4 linked regions of the Homo sapiens genome follow. The protein of the gene in region 1 purifies or fractionates together with the protein of each later gene. This does not show direct contact. Each region holds a gene or a part of one and is shown in the gene's direction. Other genes may lie near its edges.

What was found.
Region 2: the proteins of DNAJB9 (region 1) and SCARA3 purify together in Homo sapiens (affinity purification with mass spectrometry; 3 studies listed by BioGRID and IntAct, with this or other methods). This does not show direct contact.
Region 3: the proteins of DNAJB9 (region 1) and ARB2A purify together in Homo sapiens (co-immunoprecipitation; 2 studies listed by BioGRID and IntAct, with this or other methods). This does not show direct contact.
Region 4: the proteins of DNAJB9 (region 1) and TRHDE purify together in Homo sapiens (affinity purification with mass spectrometry; 2 studies listed by BioGRID and IntAct, with this or other methods). This does not show direct contact.

Annotation. Positions count from the first base shown.
Region 1 is NC_000007.14:108,565,480-108,572,900, forward strand, and holds the start of DNAJB9 (dnaJ homolog subfamily B member 9 precursor), read left to right. Parts: upstream 1-4,394; 5' UTR 4,395-4,624; intron 4,625-6,237; 5' UTR 6,238-6,247; coding exon 6,248-6,464; intron 6,465-7,419; coding exon 7,420-7,421. Other genes in the region: THAP5 (THAP domain-containing protein 5), read right to left, coding at 351-543, 4,011-4,090. UniProt on the Homo sapiens protein: Co-chaperone for Hsp70 protein HSPA5/BiP that acts as a key repressor of the ERN1/IRE1-mediated unfolded protein response (UPR).
Region 2 is NC_000008.11:27,636,883-27,643,909, forward strand, and holds part of SCARA3 (scavenger receptor class A member 3), read left to right. Parts: intron 1-7,027. UniProt on the Homo sapiens protein: Seems to protect cells by scavenging oxidative molecules or harmful products of oxidation.
Region 3 is NC_000005.10:94,101,647-94,108,673, reverse strand, and holds part of ARB2A (cotranscriptional regulator ARB2A isoform 1 precursor), read left to right. Parts: intron 1-7,027. UniProt on the Homo sapiens protein: Plays a role in the regulation of alternative splicing, by interacting with AGO2 and CHD7. Seems to be required for stabilizing protein-protein interactions at the chromatin-spliceosome interface. May have hydrolase activity.
Region 4 is NC_000012.12:72,275,348-72,282,374, forward strand, and holds part of TRHDE (thyrotropin-releasing hormone-degrading ectoenzyme), read left to right. Parts: intron 1-7,027. UniProt on the Homo sapiens protein: Specific inactivation of TRH after its release.

The DNA of each region.
Region 1 (7,421 bases):
ATGGCTTGAACCCAGGAGGCAGAGGTTGCAGTGAGCTGAGATCGCACCACTGCACTCTAGCCAGGGTGACAGAATGAGACCTTGTCTCAAACAAAAAAAGTATAAAAAATAAAACTCATGAACTTGTGTTAATAACTTAATAATGTATATCTCTTGCTTCTCTTAAGCTGTGCTTCATGAGTTTAATTTTTTTTAATTATCACTTTTAGTAAAAGCACAAATTAGTGCTCCCTTTTTTCCAAGTATCTGTTTACCCAAGTTATAGTTCCCTCTTACTCTCCCACCTGATCACCTGCCACCCTGAAATCTGCCACTCTGCTCAGCATTACCCCTCTCCCATACTGCAATACCTGATTGTCTTCAGGCAAAGAAAATATTGTTGGAACTGCAGTTTGTTTTAAATATCGAATACCCCATCTGATGTCAAGAGAGTCAGGAGTAAAATGGTCACTACATAGAAACTGGTATTTACTGGGAACCCATGAATCTCGCTTCATATTCTTTAACCACTTTTCCAGTCTTTCTTTGTCATGTAGAGGAAATCTGGAATTTAAAAAAAAAAGAAGAAAAAAGGAAAAACTTTGCTATATTTTTACAATTTTGCCAAATTCCCACCCTATATATCTGGGTAACCTATGCATCAAGTAAGTACTACAAGAGGAAGGCAACCATCCCTACCAAATAAGAGCATCTTCATGACAACTAGTACCATTATCATCTCTGCAGTAAGAGGCCTAAGATGTAAGACATGTAGCCAAGGCTCTTATCTGATAAGAGCTGAACATAATTCAGAGTCCCTTCAAGTAAAATATATGTGTTCCTATAAAGGACAAAATCTATTTGTATTTTCTATGGATTATGTTCCATTTTTATATTGCTGTACAGTTTGCCTAGAACTAGAAAAAAGGTTTGTATAAATTATAAATTCCTATTCAAATGTATTTCATAATACCACCACATGTCAAATGGCTTGTTGTCTATAATTCAAGGCAGTATTAAGCTTTACAATCTTATTTAATATTTAAAAAATAAGATGTTATTTCAAACAAATGATTTAGCTGAAAAAGTACTGAAAATATTCTCTTTACTAGCATCATCTTTAATTCTATCTATAAGTAATCTAGTCTAATAGTACTACACTTCTATAACCAATGAACTGGGAACTCCAAATTTCAAGTTCTGAAGGAGAAACTGATAGAAGAAAAGAATGGAACATGTTAAAAGGGACAGTCTCAGATATTTTATATGAAACAAATCAAATACAAATGGCAAGACAGCGCTGTATACATTTTGTTCCTGTACCTGACAATAACCTGGATTTAAAGTTGGTGCTAACATTACAGTGTATGGCAGAATTTGATAGAAAATTTTTCCTATCAATCTAAAAAGGTTTGGGTCAAGGTATACAAAACAATATTTGAAAATGGTTTATATTCCATTTGGTACTTTTCCAAGAACAGAGTCCAAGACACCACATAATTTCCTGTTTTTAAAAATAGTAACAATATAAGGTTTCTCATATAAAATGTAGCTGTTATACACTCCCTTCCCGCAATCCCAATCATTTAGCTTATGTTTTGTAGTAGCATCATTTTTTCCCCCTAAATTCTGGTAACTTTTTAAGATGCCATGGAAAGTCTGGGTACTCTGTAAGATATAACTTTTAATCCTGATATCCTCATACGGAAAAAAATCAGATAAACTACCTTTGGAAATTCCAACCACAGAAGCAATATTAATCATGTTTTAAAAATATTTTAACTTTACAAATATTAGGTTGTAAGTATGACAAGCATAACCAGAAAAGGAATTTTAAAGGCAGACAAATTTTCTTTTAGAGGACCTGACTTCTTCTGGCCATTGGTAAATTCATTTCTTTTGTTACAACTGAAATGAGAATAGGCCTTTTACAATAATGCTTTTTACTGTAAATTCATGTATATGGATGCTGTTTGCAAATTATTTCCATTGTACCTATATGCTAAGTTATCAACTCATTAAAAAAAACTTTGTGAATATCCTTATTGTTTACTGGATTGTATTGCTTCAATAGGTAAATCTCTAAGAAATCTTGATCATGTTTCCTGAATAAATTATGTCTTTATATTGGTTCAATTCATTTGATAATTTTGTTTCATTGTCTTATGTAATTCCCCAAAAGGCATAAGATAATCACAGTACAAACTGGACACTATATTAACTGAATTCCCAAATTCATATACATTTAAACTACAGTTTGCTGTAGTGTTAACATGAGCAAATTCAATTCAAGTTTGACGCTACTGGAGAATAAAACTAATTCAATTTTTATTTTGTGGATTACACAAGAAAATTTTTTAAAAACCCTAGAAATAATACAACTTTTACTAAATTCACATTTTCAGTGAAAAAAATCTTTACAATTCACTTGCATTATTTTTTCCTTCCTAAAAAGTTACTGTAAGGTCCACAAAGTTTAGTTAAAAATTTCAGTGTGGGGTTATACCCCATCTCCAATATCAAAGGCCAAATAAATCTGGGAAATACGGGGTTAAATCAAGTTCAACATGATCTTTTGCTACAAACATTCTCAGAGATAGAGCCATTAGTACAGTAGTATTTCCCTATAAACTGAAAGTGGATTAGATTGTTTTCCTCCCCCAAACATCTCTTTGCATCTTGAGGCTGGGCTTCAAGGGAGACAATCCTGGAAATATTGCCATGGATTGTGAATTACTTGGGGTTATCAGTTTTTTTTTCTTTTGAGACGGAGTTTCGCTCTTGTTGCTCAGGCTGTGGTGCAATGGTGTGATCTCGGCTCACCTCAACCTCCACCTCCCAGGTTCAAGCGATTCACCTGCCTCAGCCTCCCGAGCAGCTGAGATCACAGGCATGCGCCGCCACGCGCAGCTAATTTTGTATTTTTAGTACAGACGGGGTTTCTCCATGTTGGTCAGGCTGGTCTCAGACTGCCGACCTCAGGTGATCTGCCCGCCTCAGCCTCCCAAAGTGCTGGGATTACAGGCGTGAGCCACCGCGCCTGGTGGGGTTATCAATTTTTTTTCCATTAATTAAAATACTGGAAAGCAGCCGAATCATTAATGAATAAGTCCTTCAGGTCTAAAGTAAAATGAGCACAAAACAACTGCTGAAAATCTGAACCAGGTTAGATCTAAATGAATTGTTTTTAAATACAAGAAAAAATGGAAATGCAGTATTTTAAATATGTTGCTTTTCATGTGTTATTAATCATGTGAGTACTATTAACATCTCCATGTTACAGATGAGATATGTGAGACACCAAAGCTTAAATACTTTCCAAGAGGTCATTAAGCTACAGAATAGTGGAACCAGGATCTAGCATTGAAGCCTGGACCCCTAATTATTATACGACACTGCTTGTCTGTACTTCTGAATAAAAATCAGTGCTTCAGTAGTTTGATGGAAATATATCGTGGCTCTAGTAATTCAGAGTAACAGAATAAAACCTTGTTCTCCGCAGAGTATCTACAGCCCTAAGCAGAAGACTAGTTTATAATTCTGGCTCTGACACTAAACTTTCAAGGTCGGTTACCTAATCATTCCGGGCCTCAGTTTCCTCAGGAGAAAAGTGGGATGAAATTATACCTATGCGACCTACCTCGCGGGGGGTGTAAATTAACTTTGCGTGCACCTTTCCACTTCGCAGGTTTCACGTATCTTAAATGGTGGTTAATGTTGTTCAATGAAATGAGATCACGTGAAGTGGGGAAAAGACTGAAAACCACAGAAGCCCGCGCAAACTTTACTGTTTTAACTGTTAACACCCAAACAGGCTCCTGGGCCTCGCCACCAGCCAGCAGTCCTCGCGCAAGAAGGGCATTGCTAGCTAAACTGAACTAGCGCCTTCCCTCCGTCTTGCCGCGGGCGACGGGCCACGTACGGAGAGCTGAGGACTCACTGGCAGAGCGGACAGGAGACACCCAAGCCCAAAGGCCACAGGTCCAAGGCCTCACGGCGAGGCTGACGCTTCTGCTCCAGAAACAACTTACGGATAAAAACTCAGCTTCCGGTCTTTATTGTTTCGTCCCCGGCGGTTCTTACAACAAATCGCTGCGCAATAGCGGGGCATGACTCGGGTGAGGCCCCTGGAGACCGGGGCCGGCGACGGATGCAGGGCGGCCCTCCTCACTGAGGATGCGCCACAGGTCCAGGCCTCTCGAGCCCCTGCGCCTGCGCTAGCATTCTGCCGGGAAAGCCGCCTCGTCTGTCGACTCACTTCCGCCTCCTCCGGTTTAAGCACCGCCTTTTCGGGGGTTGAAGCCGGAAGTGGCGCACAGCCCTAGCAGCAACAACAGTTTTCCACGTGCGCGTAGGGCGCCGGGATCACGTGGGGAGGCAGAAGCCAATGGGGAAGCGTTTCGTGTAGGTCTTCTGAGGTGGTGGCGCCAGCGGCTACCTCCTGCCTGTGAGGAGCTGGCTGAGAGGGGACTGGGCGCCGGCGGGGAAGGAGGAGCGCTAGGTCGGTGTACGACCGAGATTAGGGTGCGTGCCAGCTCCGGGAGGCCGCGGTGAGGGGCCGGGCCCAAGCTGCCGACCCGAGCCGATCGTCAGGGTCGCCAGCGCCTCAGCTCTGTGGAGGAGCAGCAGTAGTCGGAGGGTGCAGGTGAGGGACGAGGCCGGGGTCGTGGGGAGGGGAGTTCGGAGGGTCCCCGTAGCCCAGGCCTGTCTTTGTGAGCTGACTTGGCCTCGGTGTCCGCCACGGTCGCCGCAGGGACAATGGGCTGCATGTTTTTGGCCGAGAGAATGGAAGAACGGAGACAGCCGCATCACAGAATCGTGTTTTGGGTTGTGGCGCCGGCTTTCACGGGCGCCGGATTAGAGCCCGGGTCTCGGGCAGCTTCTGCGGCGGGGCCTGGGCGGGCAGGGAAAGTGCCAGTCGCCTTTAGGTGAAGGTTGGAGGGTCTAGCCCAGCCGCCCACCGAGGCTGGGGAATAAGGCACGGGCTGCTGGCTGGCGGGGCCGTCTTGGGGATGAGAAGTCTGTACAATACAAAACTAGTCTGCTAAAAAAAAATCATTAGATGTCCACCTTGAGACCGTGGAATAACGTCTGCTGAACCAGTGAGGCGCCTCCCTGTCAGTTTTAGATCCGCCCTTTGACTAGGGAGCAACCTGCAGTTGACGCAGCGTCCATGGGACACACTGTTGTGTTCCTTAAACCGAGAAGTGGTTCTTGATTCTTGGTACCCGTGACTACGAGTAACTCTCTGGAAATAAGTAATCTACCTGCCTGCTAATTACTCTCAGGAAAGGCCGCTGGAGAGGAAGCCAGGCAATTTCCACAAACCGTAGTGTTTTTCGTCAGCCTTATTATGGCATTATAGGTTACTAAGGACTCTGGTGGTCCCGTATTCAAAAAACAGGATCCATCCCTTCGTTTTGAATCTCAAGTCATTGAATACATATTGTCAAGAATTCTAAGTTAACATTTCTTTAATGGTTTAAAGGTAAAAGAAATATTTTAACTACTGAGTTTGTGAAAGTAAGAATCTGCCTTAACCACAGTACAAACTATCAAAGTTCATTTTTCTGGCAGCTTTAGCAGAAATCTTAAATTCTGTTCATCATGAGTTTTAAACAATATTTAGCCATGCTTCCTGGTTAAACATTTGGGATCTTACATTTGGGAAAAAGACAACATTCTATTGTATTGTCAGTATTAGTATTGTGATATTAAGATTCTCTATTTGCAGTCCTTGGCTCACCTGCTGAAATGAAAGCTGAATTTTTGGAGCGAGATTAATAATACTAATTTAGATATACTGGGCTATTTACCTTGGTGCGCCACCTTTTTTTTTTAATGTTTTTTTTTTCTGTGAAGTTAAATACATTATTACTTTCAGGATATGAAGTCTTGAAAGGAAAGTTGGGATCTTATATTATTTGGTTTTCTTTTTTTTTCTTACAATGCTTGCATATGATGAATCTTCAATATAAACTGGTTAAAAGTCAGTTATTGATAATTTTCTATCTCCTCTGTGTATGGCCAGAGTATTAGTAGACAGACAAAGCCAAGAATTATTTTTGTTCTCAATAAGGTTAAGCCAGTTTGAGAGTTATAAAACTAAAAGTGAAATTACATGTGGACAGGTAATAGATACTGTATGCTTACTATTTTGATACTGCATTAGGTTTACCTTGTGTTGGATTTCTTTTAAAAGAAAAACGTTTTAAGATTAGCTCCATCCATAACATTTTTTTTTCTTTTCTGTTTTAGGATATTAGAAATGGCTACTCCCCAGTCAATTTTCATCTTTGCAATCTGCATTTTAATGATAACAGAATTAATTCTGGCCTCAAAAAGCTACTATGATATCTTAGGTGTGCCAAAATCGGCATCAGAGCGCCAAATCAAGAAGGCCTTTCACAAGTTGGCCATGAAGTACCACCCTGACAAAAATAAGAGCCCGGATGCTGAAGCAAAATTCAGAGAGATTGCAGAAGGTAAATAAATGACAATCTCTGAAGTGTCATGGGTATTAACTAGTAAGGAGAATGATAGCTAAGAAGTGTTTGTATTTGAAGGTTTTGTGGAGATGGGAGGTGGAGTGGGATTTATGTATAAATATTGGGTGATTCTCTGAGATTATTTTCTTATCACAGATGCTTTGATTCCTGAATAAATATATGAAAGAATAATAGATAATTTTATTGGTATACGTATCTAAAAATATTGAAAATCTATTCTATATTATTTATAAGATCACTGTTGCTTCTATGACAAAAAAGAATTTTAGGTACCCAAAATTCTTATCAACTAACTTATGAAACAGAATATTTTACATTTTAAACATTAAAGACTTAAAAATTAAACTAGACTCTAAAGTGCTTTATTCACTTGATCTGCTTTTCAAAGCCATATTTGTCTTCAAAGAAAAAATTGGAACAAATTTTGACTTCAGACTAGCTCTAAAACAAATTGCACCTGCTGAGCATTCAGTAATTATTGTTGGATGGAGGTAACTGAGTAGGGAGTTAGAATTAAACAGTTTACTTTAGTAAGGAGGTGCAAAATCTTAATTCCTATTAATTGGTTATAGTTGATGGTTTAATTTTTTAATACAATTAATGATTTCACACGAATAATATGAAGATTAAAGAACTCTGATTGTTGCCCACATGTTTATTTGTAGTAATGGTAACATTTAATAACTTTATTGAGTATTGCAGATGGCATTGTGCCAACTGCTGATAACTCAGCAGTTAATAAGACAGTTTCTGCTTTATTTTATAATTTTGATTAACTTGATGCTTATATTTGTAGTGTTTTGCTTTTATTTCTGATGCGAAATTCTTCCCTAAAATAATAGTATTCAGTTCACTTGCTTGAAGAGATTTGAATATATGTAATTTTGAATATTTTACCTTCAGTTACTAAAAATATTTTTGTCACTTTCAGCA
Region 2 (7,027 bases), on another chromosome or scaffold:
ATCTGTGGGGTGTAAAGAACCAGGATTTTTCTCACTCGAGTGGAAAAAGTAAAGTGCCCGGCAGAGTAGGGCAGGCAGCCCCTTCCAGAGAACCCTTCCCGTGCTCCTCCAGAGGCCACACCAAACTTCGAATTACATCTGTTGGCAAAGGATCATGCCCTGCTCAAAACAAACACGTGATGTGATGTGATGTTGTATGGAGAACCGGTGATGGTGGGGAAGGTGATCAAGAAAACACGCTAGTCGGGCTGCCCAGCCCACCGGTGGCCGAGTGCCAGGGCCCACTCTGCCAGCCAAGCCATTTCCACCCGAGGCCCCTCCTGCCCCACGGCCAGCTGACAGGGCCTCCCAGGCCGCTGCCTCTTTTGATCCAAGCTGGCACCTGGCCCCTCTCACACGCAGCCCTAAGGGGACACTCAGGTGCCACCAGCCCCTTGGTGATAGGCCCACCTTGGAGCTTCCCACTGGCTTGTCCAAGCCATTAGCAGCCACCTGTGGGGTTGTTTCCACACTTCCAGTAAGAGTGACCCACCCCCAAGATGCCCAAGACACAGGCTGGTGCACCGTGAAGACTGATTTGAGAGTCGAAGACATGGGCTTTAGTCCCGGCCCCATCATCTGCCCTCTTCGGCCCCGTTGTCCTCCTGGGTGGTCCCTGAGGCCCAAGAGCTCTGCGCCTGAGCACCACTTGGGGAGCGGAAGTGACTCAGTGGTGAGGTGGCTGGAAGCGGGCCCACCTTGTGGCCTCTTTGCCCCGAGAGACTTCTGCTTGACTGCGGTGGCCAGGGCAGGGGGCAGCCCTCTGTTCCTCAGGCGTGGGAGAAACAACCCCTCCTTCCAGAATCAGAGAGCAGTGCCCACTTCATTTAGGCAAAGGGTGGAAGTGGGGAGAGGAGGGGCTGTGAAAACACAGCGATGCAATCCCAGGAGGAATCCGCCCTGCACCGCTCCTCTGGCCGAGAGGAGAGGATCTCCACTCATGAGCGGCCAGGCTGGGGGCCCCAGAAAGCCTGACCTCATTCCCCAGGGGCACGGGAAGGAGCCAGGGCTAGAAGAAAAGGAGCTGATGTGGTGAAGGTGAAAAGAGCCACCAGACAGCCTAACTGAGGGGTCCAGGGAGCCCAGCGGCTCAGATGTTGGAGTTCGGCTCCAAATCCTCAAACATCGGCCCCACTCCCACCCCCAGCCAAAACAGTCACTTTGCCCTCTAGCTGGGGGTAAGCCTAATAACTGAAGACTCAGGTCCCAAGGCTCATCGAGAGCGAGGAAAAAGCCTTCTGTTTCTCAGTAGGCTAGGTTGATGGATAGCTTGGCAGTTTCCGTGAAGGACAGGCAGCTGTTCTGGGTGTTAGAATTGATGTACAGGGTGGCATAGCTGGGCATGGCTCTCATACATGCACTGCCCATGTTTGATCATGTATAATTTAGTGATTGTGTGTGTGTGTGTGTGTGTGTGTGTGTGTGTAGAGCACTGAGTCCCAAGGTCAGGCCCAGCCCTGTCATAGGCCAGCTTTATCACTGGGATGAAGTCCCTGGTACTCCCTGGGGTCAGTCCCCTCATCCAGGTGGACCAGATGATCCCATGGGATGGCATCAGAGTGTAAGTTTCATGACAGTGGGGTCTCTGTCTGTTTCTGGCACTTAGGGGGTGTCCACTAAGTCTGTTCAGTGTGCACATCTGTACTGTACCATGGTATCGTCAGAACCTCACGCAGGCATTCCGTAAACATGCAGAAAGATGCCTGTATTCAACAAACAGCGATGGGGCGACTGCCAGGTGCCCGGCTCTGTATGTCTATATATGTCTAAGGACTGAGGAAGCTACAAAGAGCTCAGATGCTGCCCTTTCTCTCAGGGAGCTTACTCTTTACTAGGACACATAGGATTTGTGCCCAAGTCACTCAAAAAAAGACTAACAGTGATAAGTGTCTTAAGGGAGTTCCCAGCGAGAGAGTTTGGGGGTGGGCTGGGCTCTTTTCCTGGCTTTCCTTCTTTGCTGCTGTTCTTCGAAATGCGTCCTCGGTTTCAGCCACAGACAGGCTCCTGGTTCTTGCTGGCACCCGTTCCCTGAACAATCTCTCCCAGCCTCGAAGATGTGACATGTGGGAGCTGGCAAATCTGACGGCACCAGATTTGCCTCTCTGGGCTTCACAGCTGTATTTCCATCGGTGTCCTCAGTGTCTCCAGGTGGAGACCTGCAGGCACCTTCTTCATGGTTCAGATGAGACACCTTCCCCTTCACCTGAACCCAAGCTAAAAAATGGGTTATTCTGAGTTGTTGCCCCAGCCCACACTTTTCAGTCAGCCAACATGTATGGAGTTCCTGTTTTTAGGGAGGAAGCACGCTAGTTGGAAGGCAAGCCTGGGTGCTTTCTGCCCTCCCAGCAGAAATAAGACGTGCACACCTGAGACGAGAACCGAATCATCCAGGCAGATGCCACAAAAGAACAAATGCACGGCATATACGGGAGATTGGATGGGAATCCCGGGAGAGAAAGGGAGCATTTCAAGTTGGGCAGTTCAGAAAGGCTTCAGGGAGGAGCTGAAGGGTGGGGAGGAGTTGGATGGGGTCAGTGAAGAGGGCAGGAAGGAGTGCTGGGAAAAGTTGGACAGCAGGTCCTGGGGGAAGAGTGTTTGGTGGTGGGGGAGAGAGATGGCCTGCAGTTGAGGGAGCCCTAAGCCAGAAAGGACCTGAGTGCTCCATAAAGGACACGCGGTTGTGTCTGGTTGACATTGGAGAGACCTGGGAGGGTTTGTCAGGAGAAGGCCTATTTGCCACTTGCCCCTGGAGATATTCTCTCGTGGCCTTAGCCCATGTTGAGAAACCTCTACTTTTAGAGAGTGGGAGGAAGAAAATGAGCTTGTAAAGGAGCCAAGAGGAGCAGTCCAGGACACAGGCAGAGAACCATGATGGTAATGTCATGGAAATTGAGAGGAGAAAGTTCCAAGGGGGAGGAAATGACCCACCGCGTTGACTGCTGATCAGCAGAGTTAGCTCAGGATTCATGGATCAGAGAAGGCCAGGTTGCAAGGGCCAGAGGGGCTGAGTGGATCAGAAGCAAAGGCGCAGGAGGAGCTGTGTCCTTAGAGTGGGAGGCAGGGCCCAGCTCAAAGGATTTCAAGGCAGGGATGGCCCGTGCTCATTGGGAGGGGGAGGGACAGAAGAGGCATGGGGGGACTTGGGGACAGAGCGGTGGAATTGAGGGAGACTTGCTTTGAGAAGAAAGAATCTCTTTATCGGGAGGCAAGGGAAGGAGAAAAGATGGTTACAGACATAGACTCTGCATTACGAGCAGCTGCATTTAACCTTTTTATAACACATTTATTATTTTTTTAAAAATCAAAAAATTCCAAAAAGGAAAAACATTCACTCACGTGAACTCCTGCCCTGTAGAGATAATAAATGACAAAATGTAGATGAACATTCTTCAGAAATCATTCTGTGTATGTTTGCACAGATTTTTTTCATGTAGATAAGATTACACTATCCATGTTATTTTTATTTTTATTTTATTTTACTTTGAGACATAGTCTCACTCTGTGCCCAGGCTGGAGTGCAGTGGTACCATTGTAGGTTACTGCAGCCTTGACCTCCTGGGCTCAAGGATCCTCCCAGCCTCCCAAGTAGCTGGGACTATAAGCAGGTGCCACCATGCCCAGCTAATTTTTGTATTATTTGTAGAGATGAAGTCTCGCTATGTTGCCCAGGCTGGTCTCAAGCTCCCGACCTCAAGCAATCCTCCCTCCTCAGCCTCCCGATTACTTAGCGTTTTTGTTCTTAGTGCTGGTTTTTAGTTGTTGCTTTTGTTTTTGTTTGTTTGTTTCTTTGCTTGAGACAGAGTCTTGCTCTGTTGCCCAAGCTGGAGGGTAGTGGCACTATCATGGCTCACTGCAGCCTCAACCTCTTAGGCTCAAGCAATTGTCCTACCTCAGCCTCCCAAGTAACTGGGACTACAGATGCATGCCACCATGCCCAGCTAATTTTTGTATTTTTTGTAGAGATGAGGTTTCACCCTGTTCCCCAGGCTGATCTCAAACTCTTGGGCTCAAGTGATCCTCCTGCCTTAGCCTCCCAAAATGCTGGGATTACAGGCGTGAGCCACTGCACCCAGCTTGCAGTATTTTTAAAAAATGGTTTCATAACATCCCATAGTAAGACTCTACGAGCATTTATGTAACCAATCCCCTGGAGATGGGCATTTTAGCTATTTGCATTTTCCCTCAGATTTATCATAGCATGCAGTGATCACCTTTACACATACACCTTGGCCTAATTGTGTAATTATTCTCTTAACATGAAGTTCCTAGAAGGAGGATTACTGAGTCAAAGGGCACTCGCCCTTGCAGTATTGACAGAGGGTGCCAGGCTACTCAGAATGCACGAGAAGGCCTCTTTCCCCATCCCTCCCCCAGACTGGGTTTGAAGTGTAGGCATCTGGACAGAGTTAGTGGATGATAAAGAAAGAAGTTGGAACCTCATGGTCTTGATCCTTTCAGAAAAGGAGGGGGTGAGCTCATCTTTGGGGAATGAGGTGGGCTGACCTGAGGAGGAACCCAGGAATGGGAAGTGAGGATCCAGATGGCAGGACTTGGCTGAAGCCAAATGCATGCCCCCCTCTGACACTCTCCTGCAGCTCCAGGCTTCTCTAGTGCAATTCGAAGAAAGCAGGCTGAGGATGGAAGGGACCATGGCCAGGAGAGAGAACTACAGGCTCCATGGGGCAGAACTCAACCCTTGGGGACTGGGCTGGGCTTGGAGGTCAGGGCGAATGAGAACTTGGAGGAAGGAGAGCGAGGAAAGGCTGAGTGCATTGGGGATGAAGAAGGCAAGGGGCTTGAGATCAAGCAGATGGAACAGCAATAAGCCTTAAGCTCCAGAGGGCAGGCAGGATGTGTAGAGATGAGACAGTAAATCCCATGTCCAGAGCCCTGAGTTTCAACAGAAAAGCTGCTTCCATTCAAGTTGATGGCAGGAGACAGAATGAAGAATTCATCCAATCCAGGTGATGTCATTGTCCAGAACAGTGTTCCCTAAAGTCAGAGTCCCTCTGCCTCTGAACATAGGTCCCAGAATTAAAAGATACATTTATTTTTCAAGATCTGCAGGAAGTTCCATGACCAAATAAGTCTGAGAAACGTGGAGTTAAACACAGATTTAAATGGGCTTATTATTTTTTTTGGCAGGACTTTTCAAAATGCTTACTATGTGAATGTGAATCTCTAAGATGGCGATAGAGTATGCCATGTTTTCCACACTTACTTGATCAAATAATCCTTTTTCACAAAGAATAATTTGGGACTAGTGTCCCATAGGATATGTTTTGAAACACTGATTTCTTGTAAGTTGGAAATTGGTCCTGGGAGTGATGGGGGTTGGGAGATGGCAATAAATGGCAGCATTAATTGGAATAGGATAGAAAAATAATCCTAATAAAAGTGGCTGCTACTACTATTTATTAAGCATTTACGATGTACCAGGTACTTTTCATATACGTCTCATTGGATTTTCACAGCAGCTCATTGAAGCGGACGATCTCCCCACCATTTACGCATAAGGAACATGAAACTCAGAGGAGGGAAGTGGGGTGCCCATGCGAGACAGGGTAGGATTTGCAGGATCAGGGGTGACAACGGGGATCAAGAGAACTGGTGATTCCTGGCCAGGCATGGTGGCTCATGCCAGTAATCCCAGCACTTTGGGAGACCCAGGGAGGAGGATCACTTCAGGCCAGGAATTTGAGACCAGCCTGGGCAACATAGTGAGATCTTGTCTCTACAAAAAATAAGCAAGATTAGCTGGGTGTGATGGCACACACCTGTAGCCTCAGCTACTTAGGAGGCTGAGGTGGGAGGATCGTTTGAACCCGGGAGGTCTAGGCGGCACTGAGCCATGATCGCACCACAGCACTCCAGCCTGGCCAATAGAGCAAGACCTTGTCTATAAAAAGAAACAAAAAAAGAAAAGAAAAGAAAGCCAGTGATTCCCACCCCTCCCATCCCTCTGAATTCATGGGGTTCAGGGGAGTCGGGGGGGTTGGTGCTGTGGACAGAGAGGAGATCAGTGTGTAAGTAATGGGGGGAGTCTGTTGCATTGAGTGAGTAGCCTAGGTTCTTGTCTCAACTAGAGGCAGCACCAGCCTGCGAGCAGGTATTTAGAAATGGGTGGGCATTCGGGGTTGTCACAATGACCAGGGATTGCTATTGGCCTTTAGCGGGCAAGGCCAGGATGCTGAATGTCTGTGCAGAGTGGGCCGTGCTCATCTAATGAAGAATTGCACCACCTGGAATAGGGTCCAAGTTAGAAAAGTTGAGGGCAAGAAAGTTGTTTAGGATAAAGGGGATTTAGGATAAAGCAGGGATTTACCCACAACCTCTGTGGTTACCAAGAACAGGGTGGGAGGCAGCCAAAGGGATTCAGGTGGAGGTAGCAGGAACCGGGAGGGAAGCCTGTCTCAGAGCAGCAGATGTGGCTTTAGGGATGCAGGAGCTTGAGGATGGGGACCAAAAAAGGGGCGAGTGCTGGAGGAGAGAAACTGGCAGAGCCACGGAAGCAGAAAAGGACAACTTGTTGAGCAAGAAGATTTGAAGGGAAAGGACCTGTGTCTTGAGACCTGAGCGGGCAGGCGGATTCCCAACCGATTACAGACAAACCCACAAAGGAAGCCTGTGGAGAGGGGGTAGTGGCGGAAGGGCTCTAATGAAAACAATTTTGCAACCTTACTTATAGCGTTCTCCAACCTTAAACTAATAGCTATTCTGCACTTTAAATATAGCATTGGCTCCAGAGAAGACTCTGAAATCTTTATTTTTACCGATCCAATTGGCTGTTTTGAAAACCCACTCTGTGAACCCTGCAGAAGATAATTATCAAAATATGTTCCTTGAAGTGCCCAAAGAAAGACCTTTTATTCAGTTCCTCGAATCTCTCCCCCTTGTTGACTCAGATGGAAGAATGCAGTCCCAGAAAGGCGAAAGAGGGAACCAAGGACACATTTTTGGTCAACCAAAAGAAAGCCGGCATTGGTGA
Region 3 (7,027 bases), on another chromosome or scaffold:
GTAGTATCTCTCTGTGGTTTTAATTTGCACTTCCCTAATGATTGGTGATGTTAAGCATCTTTTCATGTCCTTTTTGACCACTGGTATATATTTTTGGAGTTCTATGAATTTATTTTAAGATATGATTTAATAAAAATTTTTGGAGATTTATTTGGTGGAGTTTTTAAGGGTTAAGAAGGCAGCCACCATGACTTTTATTGCATTTTAACTCTTTAATCCTGTAATTGTAAAAACTCTCAACTTGTCTGTTGACCAGGTATCTGTAGTAACTCCAAACTTAGAAATTAAAAAAAAAAATACACCATCTTCTATAATAATAAATGAACCTTTTGGTTCAAATTGCCATGAAAACAGTTCAGAAAGCCAAAGACTATCCTGGCCTGTTTTGATTTTTTTTTCTTTTTAATTAGAAGAAAAGGAGTATATTAAATGGCTGACTGTGCCTGTGTAGTAGATGTCGTTTGTTTTGTAGCTGAGAAGAGCGGGGACCAGAAGAGCCAAACAGGATGAAGAAACAGAAAAGACGTGTTCTGGTTCTTGCTGAGAAGAGCAGGTACCAGAAGAGCCAAAAAATGATGAAGAAACAGAAAAGATGTGTTAGATATCAGTGTAGCAGTTTGATTTCACTAGATGGAGAGTGGCAAAGATCAGTAATAGTGATGGATCATGAGCCCCAGAACTGACAGCAGAGGAGAGGGGACCCAGAATCAAAGTGAAAAAAAGTAATATAGAGCTATGCTCTACAGATTGGCATGGGATGGAGGGTAGAATGAGGGAGTGCAAATCACCAGCTTCATCTCAGTATGTGGTTCGGAATTGAGACAGTTGGCCCTGAGTAATCCAGTAAGATCTACTGTATATCAAATAATGTATGTTAGTCCATACAGCTCAACAGTGAGTGTTTGGAAGGTGTGCACTGTATACAGTTCTATAGGAGTAAGCGAAGTTGTTCAGATCATGTGCCACATAATTTCTATTCATAATGAGTTCAACTGAGTAATTTGAGTGTATAATTTAACAATGTCCAAAACTGTAAAAAATTTTTAAAATATAATCTGTTAAGAAGGAAGGGCATTTTTAATAATCCAGAATGTCCAATTGCCTATAAGTTCAAGGTAACAACGTCTTTTTTTTTTTTTTTTTAACTATTGAATGTTTTGTACACTGTCATAATTTATTAGATACTCTTGGGGGTGCTACGTTGAGCTATTTCAGTTATAAAGCTCATTTAAATCAATTACTTTGCTTTAGTTTAATGAATGAAAAATTGTATGACAATTTTACTTGTAACTCCTTGGCAAATTAAAATTGATTAATTTACTGCAGATGAGATGGCAGATGACTGACTCAAGGTTTCACAGCTAAGTTACAGAGAAATTAGAGACAGAAGTGCTATGCTGCTTTCTCTAATATTGTTTGTTGTCTCCATTTGGAGGAAATGATCTCTTTTGTAATATACGTAATTGAGATAATTTTTGCTTCAGAGAAAATAACACTGTGAAGACCATCAAAGCAAAGCATTTCTTCATATCAGATTATTTATGTTTTACTTGGAAATTGCTAAAGGAGTAGTTTTTATTTCATTTTTAAACTTTTATTCCTTTCCAACTTTTATTTTAGTTCAGGGGGTACATGTGCAGTGACCCGATAGGTAGTTTTTCAATTCTCATCCTCTTCCCAACCTCCACCCTGAAGTAGACCCCATTGTGTATTGTTTCCTTCTTTCTCCATGTATACTTAATGTTTAGCTTTCATGTATAAGTGAGAACATGTGGTATTTGTTTTTTTTTTTTTTTTTTTTTTCTGCATTGATTCACATAGGATAATGTGAAGCTCCATCCATGTTGCTGTAAAGGACATGATTTTATTCTTTTTTATGGCTGTGTGGTGTTCCGTGGTGTATATGTGCCACATTTTCTTTGTTCAGTCCACTGTTGATGGGTATGTAGGTTGATTCCATGTCTTTGCTTTTTTGAATAGTGCTGCGATGGACATATGAGTACATGTTGTCTTTTTATTAGAATGATTTATATTCCTTTGGGTAGGTACCCAGGAATGGGATTGCTGAGTTGAATGGCAGTTCTTTCTGTTTTAGGTTCTTTAGAAATTTCCAAACTGCTTTCCACAGTGGCTGAAATTTACATTCCCCCCACCACTGTATAAGCATTCAGTTTTCTCCACAACCTCATCAGCAGCTGTTATTTTTTGACTTTTTAACAATAGCCCTTCCAACTGTTGTGAGATGGTTCTTATTTTGGTTTTGATTTGCATTTCTCTAAAGCTCAGTGATGTTGAGCATTTTTTCATATGTTTGTTGTCCATGTGTATATCTTGTTTTGAGAATTGTCTGTTCATGTCCTTTGCCCATTTTTTATGGGTTTTTTTGCTTTTTAATTTGTTTAAGTTCCTTATAGATCCTGGCTATGGGACCTTTGTAGGATGCATAGTTTGCGAATTTTTTTCTCCCATTCTGTAGGTTGTCTGTTTACTGTGTTGATAGTTTCTTTTGCTGTGTAGAGGCTCTTTAGTTTAATTAGGTCTTTCTTTTCAATTTTTGTTTTTGTTGCAGTTGCTTTTGGAGTCTTCATATGAAATCTTTGCCAGGGCCTAGATTCAGAATGGTATTGCCTAGATTTTCTTTTAGAGTTTTTATAGTTTAAGGCTTTACATGTAAGTCTTTAATCCATCTTGAATGGATTTTTGTGTATGGTAAAAGGAAAGGGTTCAGTTTCAATCTTCTGCATATGGCTAGGCAGTTATCCCAGCACTCTTTATTGAATAGGGAGTCCTTTTCCCATTACTTATTGTTGACTTTGTTAAAGATCAGATGGTTTTAGGTGTGTGGCTTTATTTTTGGGTTCTCTATTCTGTTCCATTGTTTTATGTGTCTGTTTTTTTTTTTTTTCCAGTACCATGCTGTTTTGGTTACTGTAGCCTGGTAGTATAGTTTGAAGTCAGATAGTGTGATACCTCTGGCTTTTTTCTTTTTGCTTAGGATGGTTTTGGGTATTCAGGCTATTTTTCAGTTCCATATGAATGTTAGATATTTTTTCTAGTTCTGTGAAAAATGTCATTGGTAGCTTGATAGGAGTAGCATTGAATCTGTAAATTACTTTGAGCAGCATGGCCATTTAAATAATATTGATTCTTCCTATCCATGAGTAAGGAATATCTTTCCATTTGTGTTGTTTCCGATTTCTTCAGCAACATTTTGTAATTCTCATCGTAGAGCTCTTTCACCTCCCTGTTGAGCTGTATGCCTAGGTATTTTATTTCTTTTGTGGCTATTGTGAATGGGATTGCATTCTTGATTTGGCTCTCAGCTTGGACGTTATTGCTGAAATGCTACTGATTTTTTTGACATTGATTTAGTATCCTGAAACTTTGCAGAAGTTGTTTATCAGATCTAGGAACCATTGGGTAGAGAGCATGGGGTTTTATAAGTGTAGAATCATATCATCTGTGAACAGAGATAGTATGACTTCCTTTTAATTTGGATGCCTTTCATTTGTTTCTCTTGCCTAATTGCTTTGGCTGAAATTTCCAGTACTATGTTGAATAGTTGTGGTGAGAGTGGGCATGCTTGTCTTGTTCCGGTTTTCAAGGGAAATGTCTCTAGCTTTTGCCTATTTAGTATGATGTTTGCTGTGGATTTGTCATAACTGGCTCTTTTTATTTAAGGTATGTTCCTTCAATGTCTAGTTTGTTGAAAATTTTTAACACATGTTAAATTTTATCAAAAGCCTTTTCTGCACCTATTGAGATGATCATATGGTTTTTGTTTTTAGGTTTGTTTATGTGTTGAATCACATTTACTGATTTACATATGTTGACCCAACCTTGTATAACAGGAATAAAGCCATTTTGATCATGGTAGATTAGGTTTTTGATGTGCTGCTGGTTTTGGTGTGCTAGTGTTTGTTGAGGATTTTTACATCTATATTCATCAGGGATATTGGTCTAAAGTTTTCTTTTTTCGTTGTGTTTCTACAAAGTTATGGTATCAGAATGATGCTAGCTTCATAGAATGATTTGACGAGGAGTCCCTTCTCATTTTTTGGAATAGTTTAGTAGGGTTGGTTTCAGCTCTTCTTTATATGTTGGGTGGAATTTGGCTGTCAATCTATCTTTTCCAGGACTTCTTCTGGGTGTAGGCTTTTTATTACTGATCAATTTTGAAATTCACTATTGGTCTGTTCAGGGTTTCAATTTCCTTCTGATTCAATCTTGGGAGGTTGTATGTTTTGAGGAACTTATCCATTTTTCTCTAAGATTTCTAGTTTGTGTAGGTAGAGGTGTTCCTAATAGTCTCTGAGAGTTTTTTTTTTTTATTTCTGTGGGGTCAGTTGTAATGTTCACTTTGTCATTTCTGATTGTGTTTATTTGGACTTCTTTCCTTTTTTCTTTATTTGTCTAGCTAGTGGTCTGTCAATCTTATTTATTCTTTCAGAGAACGACGTTTTGGTTTCATTGACCTTTTGTATAGTTTTTCATGTCTTAGTTTTGTTCAGTCAGCTCTGATTTTGGTTTTTTCTTCTGCTAGCTTTGGGGTTAGTTTACTTTTTTTTTTTTTGGTTGCTCTAGGTGTGATTTTAGGTTGTTAATTTGAGATCTTTCTAACTACTTGATGTAGGTGTTTAGTGCTATATACTTTCCTTTGAAGACTGCTTTAGCTCTGTCTCAGAGAATCTGGTATGTCATTTCTTCCTTTTCATTAGTTTCAAAAAATTTATTGAATTCTGTCTTAATTTCATTGTTTACCCAAAGTCATTCAGGAACAGATTGTTTAATTTCCACATAATTATATGATTTTGAGAGATCTATTCTTGTACTGTGGTTAAGAATGTGGTATAATTTCAGTTTTTTTTTTTTTTTTTTGAATCTGTTGAGAATTCCTTTATGGCTGAGTGTGTGGTCAATATTACAGTATGTGTCATGTGCAGATAAGAAGAATGTATATTCTGTTGTAGTTGAGTGCAGTGTTCTGTAGATATCTGTTAGGGCCATTTGGTCAAATGTCAAGTTTAGGTCCTGAATATCTTTGTTAGTTTTGTGCCTTGATGGTCTGTCTAGTACTGTCAGTGGGTGTCAAGGTGAGGTCTTCCACTATTATCGTGTGGTTATCTAAGTCTCTTTGTAGGTCTCTAAGAACTTATTTTATGAATCTGGGTGCTCCAATGTTGGATGCATGTATATTTAGGGTAGTTAAAGTTTTCATGTTGAATTGAACCCTTTATCATTATTTAATGCCCTTCTTAGTCCTTTTTGATTATTGTTGCTTTCAAGTCTGTTTTGTCTCAAATTAAAAGAGCAATCTGTCTCTTTTTTGTTTTCTGTTTGCTTGATAGATTTTTCTCTATCCCTTACTCTGAGTCTGTGGGTGTCATTGCATGTGAGAGGGGTCTGTTGAAGATAGTATGTAGTTAGGTCATGTTTCTTTATTCAAATTGCCACTCTGTGTCTCTTAAGTGGTGTAGTTAGTCCATTTACATTCAGAGTCAGTATTGATATGTGAACATTTGATCCTGTTATGCTGTTATCTGCTTGTTATGTAGACTTAATTTTGTAGTTGCTTTATGGTGTCAATGGTCTGTGTACTTAAGTGTGTTTGTTTTTGTGGTGGCCAGTAATGGCCTTTCAATTTCATATTTAGTGCTTCCGTAAGGACCTCTTATAAGGCAGGTCTGGTGGTAGTGAATTCCCTTAGTATTTGCTTATCTGAAAAGGATTTTATTTCTCTTTTACTTATGAAGCAAAGTTTGGCTAGATATGAAATTCTTGGTTAGAATTTCCTTTCTTTAAGAATGCTGAATAAAGGTCCCCAGTCTTTTCTGGCTTGTAGGGTTTCTGCTGAAAGGTCAGCTGTTAGCCTGATGGGGTTCCCTTTGTAGGTGACCTCTCCCTTCTTTTTAGCTCCCTTTAAGATTTTTTCTTTCACTTTGACCATGGAGAATCTGAAGACTATTTGTCTTCAGCATGGTTGTCTTGAATAGCATCTTACAGGGGTTCTCTGCAGTTTCTGAATTTGAATGTCTACCTCCCCAGTGAGGTTAGGGAAATTTTCATAATTTTTAATTATGTTTTCTAAGTTGCTTTCTCATGTCTCTCTCTTTCAGGGATGCCAATGTGTCATATGTTTGGTCTGTTTACATAATCCCATGTTTTTTGGAGATTTTGTTCATTCTTTTTATTCGTTTGCCTTTATTTTTGTCTGATTGAGTTCATTCGAAGAATTGGTCTTTGAACTTTGAGATTCTTTCCTCAGTTTTGTCTATTCTTTTCTCAGCACTTCTGATTGTATTATGAAATTCTTTTAGTTTTTCATCTCTATCAGATCAGTTTGGTTCCTTCTTAAAATGACTATTTCATCTTTAAGTTCTTGTATTATTTTATTGGATTCCTTAGATTCCTTGGATTGGGTTTCAGCTTTCTCCTGAATCTTGATGATTCTCCTTGCCATCCAGATTCTGAATTCTATGTCTATAATTTCAGCCTGGTTAAGAACCATTCTTTGGCAGGTGGTGCAGTCATTTGGAGGTAGGAAGACACTCTGACTTTTTTTTTTTTTTTTTACTTTGGAATTATTAATATTATTTCCTATGATATAACATAGTTAAAGCTAATTTTCAGGAGGAAAGTTTCATTTTGTAATTATTCATTATTTACACTATGACGGGGAGGGCTTTAGTATTCTTTTTTTTTTCCTGGTTATTCCTTTTTTTAAAAAATTATTTTAGGTTTGGGGATACGTGTGTAGGTTTGCTACATAGATAACATGTGTCACAGGGTTTGTTGTACATATTACTACATCACCCAGGTATCAAGCTCAGTACCCAATAGTCATCTTTTCTGCTAATTGCCCTCCTCCTCACCTCCCTCTCTTAAGTAGACCCCAGTGTCTGTTGTTCCTTTCTTTATGTTCATGAGTTCTCATCATTTGGCTCCCACTTACAAGTGAGAACATGCAGTCAGTATTTGTTTTTCAGTTACTGTGTTAGTTTGCTAAGGATGATAGCCTTCAGCTTCA
Region 4 (7,027 bases), on another chromosome or scaffold:
GCTGTATGATAGTTAAAACCTCCTATAAGTGAATGTATAAATTATTCACTTTCTTACTCCTGACATTAGATATGGATATTTTAAACCCCCTTCTACCACTTCCTCCAACATGTTCTAAAGAATACAGATTAAAAATATTTTTTAAACCCAGAATTATGTCAAATACGGGGGAAAGGCATAGAAAACAAATTTGCATACTATGTTTAGGAACAAGCTTCTTAGGTCAAAATGTCAATAGTGGGAGTTGCATATCATTACTGATACATCTTGCTGCAGTGAAATAAATGCTTTTGAAAAATCCTGTTTTTTGAGCCATGCCAAAATATGTTTGGCAGAACTGAGCTTGTTTTGGTCAATGCTTTCAAATTAACAGGACTCTTAAAAAGACCAGATGTTTCTGCTTGAACCGTAACTGATTTCTTGTACCCCTAGTGCGTATTTGTACTCAAACTCTCTTGCAGTTTTCCCCAAAGAAGTAAACAACTTGGTTGGAAGTTCAACCTAGTTAACATATAGTTAAACTCTTCATCCCAATAGAAATGCAGAACTCAGTGTTCTGAAAATCCCAGGATTGTTTTATTTCTAAACAGCATCTTAGAGAAAGTCCTTGTTCTTCATTTTTTTTTCCTTCCTCATTATTATTATTAGAGTAAATCTTATAATTTCTTGGATGTTTCTACTGGAGTTGATAAGACAAAAGAAATAAATCTAATAAACCATTTCATAGTTATGCAAACTTTCTATTTATTAAACATTTTTTGTTACTATAGCCACTTGGAGCATGGAGCATTTTTAAACAGACCCATATCAGCATCTCAGCTAGGGTTGGACTTTTATGTTGTCCACAAAATGCAATGTAAATTGGCATTTTAAAACCCACTTTCAAATAGGACGCAGATGCAAGCACTGAATTTTCATTTGATTAATGATTAAACATTTTGGTTTTTAGTTAGATATAATTTTGCCAATTTAATTATAGGGTAATGTCTGTAATAAAAACAAATATGTAATCTGATAAAGGAAGTCATATTGAGCAACTTGAAATGCTTAAAACAGCAATACTACAGTGCAGTCCACTTCTCTTAGCCTATGTGGAAACACTAACTCATTAAAATCCTATCAGTCTGATTCTTCAACTTGCTTCTCAGAGACCTGAGCAAAAGAATTTTGGTGACGGCAGGGAAATTAGATTCTACTGTGTGCTATATACCTTGGACCCCTGGAAGGTTTTACCCACCTCTGGGTGTTGTAAGTAGCCTGGCTTTGTACAACTGGGAAGACTTGCTTTTCCTGATTTCCATACTGTAATGTACAAAGGTTAGAAGACGAGCTCCCTCTTGAAGCCCAAGTTTTCCCAAGTTGAGACAAATTCTCTACTCTTGGTTACTACAGTTGTTGAACATTGAAAATAAATTCTCCTAAAATCCACATGTCTACACACCAATAAGTAAATTAGGCAGAATACATACTCACTTTTTCATCAACTAGGTGTGCAGCAGGCAGATAAAAATGGGTGTGTATTTATGCTGTAGTCTCCGACAAAAGAGTATGCTTGCTTAGAATTAGGTAAAATGTCCGTTTACCTGAAATAATTGCCACTTTTGGGTAGCCAGATGGTGAGCGCACCCGTGTTCAAAGTAGGGTACCTTAATTTAGATCCAGATGGTTGAATTGAAAGGGAAATATAGCCAAGATAAAGAACATTTTGTTCACTTTCAAAAGGGAGACTGTTTTTCTTTGACAAACTTTAATAGGGTCTATAACATGCCAAAGTGAGACGACATTAAAAATATGAGGTCCTTTTCTATAAAGGATTGTTTAGAGAGAAACTATAGTCTCCAAGTAAAATGGGAAAATAATAGTGGTAGTTCTCAAAGAGAATTGGGACCATCCTTTTGCAAAAATCTTGGGGAGAGAATGGAGGATTTTATCTCTGGGTAGGCATTTGCTCTACTGTGGTATTTGTGTGATCTGATGCCTTGTAATTTACTCAGAATGAATTAATACTCATGGTATTTAATACAAACAAGAAATTCACTACATTATTTTTAGATCGAAAGCAACTTCATTTCTCCCATTCACTTCGGTAAGAAGATAGCTTAACATGAGCAAGTAGGAGTATATTGCTTTTTGTCCCTCTATAGAGGACTGTGAACTGAAAAAAATCTTTGAGAACCATTTGTTTCTGTAAAAACTTTTTTCTGTGATTCCTTAATGGACTTAGCTCATTGTTTTTGTGTCAGGCTCACATAACCATATGGCAAAACTGAGTTCAGTGCTGGATTTTGAACACAATTCAAAATGCCACCAGTAAACCGTATCTAGACAATGTTTACTAAAAAAAAAGCTCTGACCATGTAATAATGACTCACTCAGGGAGAAAATCTATGCAATTGGTGTTTGTCTTTCTGTGTTTCCTGTAGTGCCATTTGATTTGATCACCCTGGATAATAATTAAATATACAGTTTTTTCAAATTAATTGACATAAAATTGTGTATATTTATCTTGTATAATCTAATGTTTTGAAGTATGCATACATTTGGAACAAATGTAGTTAATTAACAAATGCATCATCTCATATAGCTATTTTTGTGGTGAGAATGTTTAACATCTACTCTCAGCAGTTTTCAAGAATATAATATATTGTCATTAATTATAGTCACCTTGCTTTACAATAAGTCCCTTGAACTTATTCCTTTTTTCTAAGTAATTATATATCCTTTGACCAGTAACTCCTCAACTCCATTCTTCCCCTAACCTCTTATTATCTGGTAAACATTATTCTACTCTCTAATTCAGTGAGGTCAACTTTTTTAGTTTCCACATATTACTGAGATCATGCAATATTTGTCTTTTTGTGCCTGGCTTATTCACTTACATGAAGTCTTCCAGTTCATCCATGTTGTCTCAAATGACAGGATTTCCTTCTGTTTATGGCTGAATGGTATTTCATTAGTGTATGTATACATTTTCTTTATCCATCCATTCATTGATGAACTCTTAGGTTGGTTCTGTATCTCGGCTACTGTGAATAATGCTGCAATAAACATGTTGCAGATATCTCCTCAACATGATGATTTCTTTTTCTTTGGATATATAATCCACCAGTAGTGGGATTGCCAGATCATATGGTAGTTCTATTTTTAATTTTTTGATGAACCTCCATACTGTTTTCCATAATGGCTGTACTAATTTATAGTGTACTCATTTTCACCAACAGTGTACAAGGGTTCTTTTTGCTGCACATCCTTGCTAACAGTTGTTATCTTTTGTCTATTTGATAATAGCCATTCTTACAGGTGTGAGTTGACATCTCACTGTGGTTGCATTTCCCTGATGATAAGTCATGTTGAACATTTTTCATATACCGGTTGGCCATTTGTATGTCTTATTTTGAGAAATTTTCATTCAGGTCTTTTGCCCACTTTAAAAAATCAGATTTTGTTTTTTCTTGCTATTGAGTTGTTTGATTTCATTATATGTTTTGGTCATTAATCACTTATCAGATGTACAGACTGCGAATATTTTCTCCCATTCTATAGGTTGTCTTTTTACTTTACTGTTTATTGTCTTTGCTGTGCAGAAACATTTTAGTTTGATGCAATCCCGTTTGTCTATTTTTTGCTTTTGTTGCCTGTGCAGTTGCCTTTGTTTTTATTTATTCAATGCAACTCCAAACTGAGCCTATCTGCTTCGGATCCCTTTCAAATAAAGATGGACCTGATACTGGCTTTCCCAGTATTTGTTTGGTTTGCACAACATGTTTGTTTATTTAAACTGATTGTTGCCACTGTGTATGTGGATGGGCTTGAGCAAACAATGCAGGACATGTTTTAGGTGTGCTTGAGGGTGGTGACATTTGGTCAATATGATTTACAAAAATGGGACTTACCTCTGTAAGTATGACTTCAAGGAGTGATACAAAAACAGTGAGGAAGAAATAATTTACCTTTAAGGCATAAATGCTTTACGGTCTTTAAGGAGGGCATCCCTCCTTCACCCCCAATGCTCATCCTCCCAACCCCTAGCAATCATAATCTTCATCATCACCATCATCATCATCATCATTTCTCAATTCTTTGCATGTTCTTTACTGCCTTCCAGATTTACATTACTGGCCAGCTTCTACCAGGGTTTTTCAAAGTTCATGCCATCCTACTTTCTACTACAGGAGACTGCATACTTTCTCCCACAGATAGAATTTTACTAGGCAGAATTTTGGAAAATTCAAACGTGAAAAATACTTCCTGCTTTTTCCAGTTTCCTGGACAACCTAAAATGATGCACAAACAGGCACAGCTGTATGGTGGTGGTGGCAGTGTGAGGGTAGAATAAGATTGGCAGTGTTGCATGGAGCTGAATAAGGGTGAAGAACCCAGGCTCACCCTTCCTGCCTTCTTTGCCTCCAAGCTTCTGAATGCCTGGGTGGACCTGACATTTATAGAACTGTGGCCCCAGTTGTACAGGGACAGGGTGAATTAATTCCTCCCAGTGCACACCTATGTGTGTGCTGCAGGATGAAGTTTTGTTTTAATCATTCACATCTTTCCTCATGACTACACAACTAAAAAAAGAAAAATCAGAGGATAGACAAAGAAAGTAGTTCAAAAACTGTGGTTGTTGGTTACTTTTTACATCTTTTAAAAATAGATTATTTTTAAAAATCTTATATCTTTTAAAAAATAGTTCACTTTTGTTGTGTCGCTGGATGGAAAAGTGTGTGTGTATGTGTTTAGTGTGTTCATTCTCTTCCTCCTATGCAGGGACTGTGGAACCAGACTGCTTGGCCTCATATCCTGACTCTGCCACTTATTAGCTTTAAGACCTTGGCCAGATTTCCTAATTGCTGTGTGTCTAGTGTCCTCATCTGGAAAGTGGAGATAATGATATTCTATTGTACAGGGTTGTTGTGATGATTACATCAGTAATAAAGCACTTAGAACAGTGTCTGATAATTGGTAAGCACATCTGTGGTTATTAAATATAATTTTATTATTCCATGGCTGGAGATCTGCTACTTGGGCTAGTACCAGTTTGTGTAGGACCAACGTTCTTGCTTTGGGGTTTCCCCTTGCTGGCAAAACAGTGGGGAAATGGTCACCGTGGACATCCCTTTGGCTGCTGTTTGTTTTTACCACCTAAGCAGAGTTCAAAAGACAGGGAATGGGAAAAGAAGGTGGGAAGGAAGAAGAGGAGCCTGGTCACCAGAAAAAAAAGAAGGAAAAGAAAGGTTGTGGTATTTCAGCCAGAGAATCTCCCAGCTTGGATCAAATACTGGGAGATGGAGAGGGTTGAGGGAGCAGAAAGACTGAGGGAAACAAGAGAAACACACAAGTCTCTGATTACAGCACTGCTGTCTATTAGCAGTGAGAATAGCAGGAACCAGATAGCAGGAACCAGAGACTGAAGAGTCAGAAGGGTACCAGTACAGCAAGAAGAAAAGCCTTAAGTACCAAGGGAAAGGCGTCTCAATCATTAGATATTGTTCCTAAGACTTTATGTGGTTTTGACAACAGCAGTACTTTATAATACTTCCGTAATATTTTGCCTCTTTCCAATAAAAAAACGTGAATCTCAGACACGAATTTTATTTATTTTTATGAAAACCTAATATTATGACCTGGGAAAGTCATTTTAATGCATTCATAATACCCTTCAACAATGATGATCAAGTACGCAGTACTTATTTTTGGTAAGCATATTTAGTACATAAATGGTGAAACAATTATGAATATTATGCTCTGTTTTTATAACACGATTATTCACATATGCACCACTTCCTACATACATATTGCTGGCATTATTGCCTTATGTTTTTAGTTTACTCCAATGGTTATTTAAAAAAAATAGACTACACACTTGCTTATAGTATTGAATATTCAGCAGGAGTACTTCTCTTCTGAAATAGCAGAGGTTTAATGACTCATTGAAGTGCATAAAAACACACAGTCTAAACAACGACCCATTTTGCCTTAAAGAATTTAGTCATCGAGTAACAATTTGCATTTTGGATTAACAATTTTAAATGGGACACGTGTAACTTCCATGACCTTGTAACAGTCCGCTTACTGCAATCAGTTGAATAGTAACTAGATGTTCCATTGAAACTTTTCTTTAGGTCTTGGGAGTTTTTATTACCAATCTTAAACTACTGCAATATTAGAGAAATTGCAGTTGCTATAGAAGTAGGTTCAAAATCATTTTGCACTGTGTTATGCAGAGATGTGGCCAAAAAGAAAACCTTTCAAGTCATCCATGCTGTTTGTGAGATTCTCTTGGTTTTGGCGGATTCCACAGTGAAATGCCATGAATCAATCTGAATACTAACAGTGTTATGCAAATGTTTGTTTCCTCTGCATGTCTTACCTTTATGAAAAGGCAAACTGAAAAATAATGGAGCAGAAATTGTTTTGTATCACATACTGTAATTTGTTGGCAATATCAACCAACATTAATGCATTACTTCTGCTGAATGTTATCATAATGACTTGATACAAGTAGCTTGCCTAGTGAACTTCCGCAGAAATAAGAAGAAATCAATTCTCTATATCCTTCAGAGGCAACATGGAGCTTTAAGCCTTCCTTCTTAGCTCAACCAAAATGTCAAATAGACAAGTTGTTAAGAAAATAAAGTAATTTATTTTAGATAGAAGAGAATTAAAATACATGTATGCTATTCACATTTTTCCAGTTATGCTAAAATGACATTCTACGAATCACACTCCCAGAATGTCACTTTTGAAAGTGGAATTTTTTATGGTAATAGACAGATTCATTAAAAGATAAAAATGATTTTGTTTAGGAAAGCAGGAGAATAACAGACAACAAAATACTTGTCCCCATTACCTTCTGCCTTTTGCTGTTTTGTTTTACTTTTTGCTATATTTACATATATTTTTTCATGTCCACATTATAATTGAAATATTTCGATTTTTAATTAATTTTTTATATTTATTATACTTGGTATTCTGCTTACCACCTCAAACTCACCACAAATTCACTCCAAACTTGTTATTTTTTTCTCAA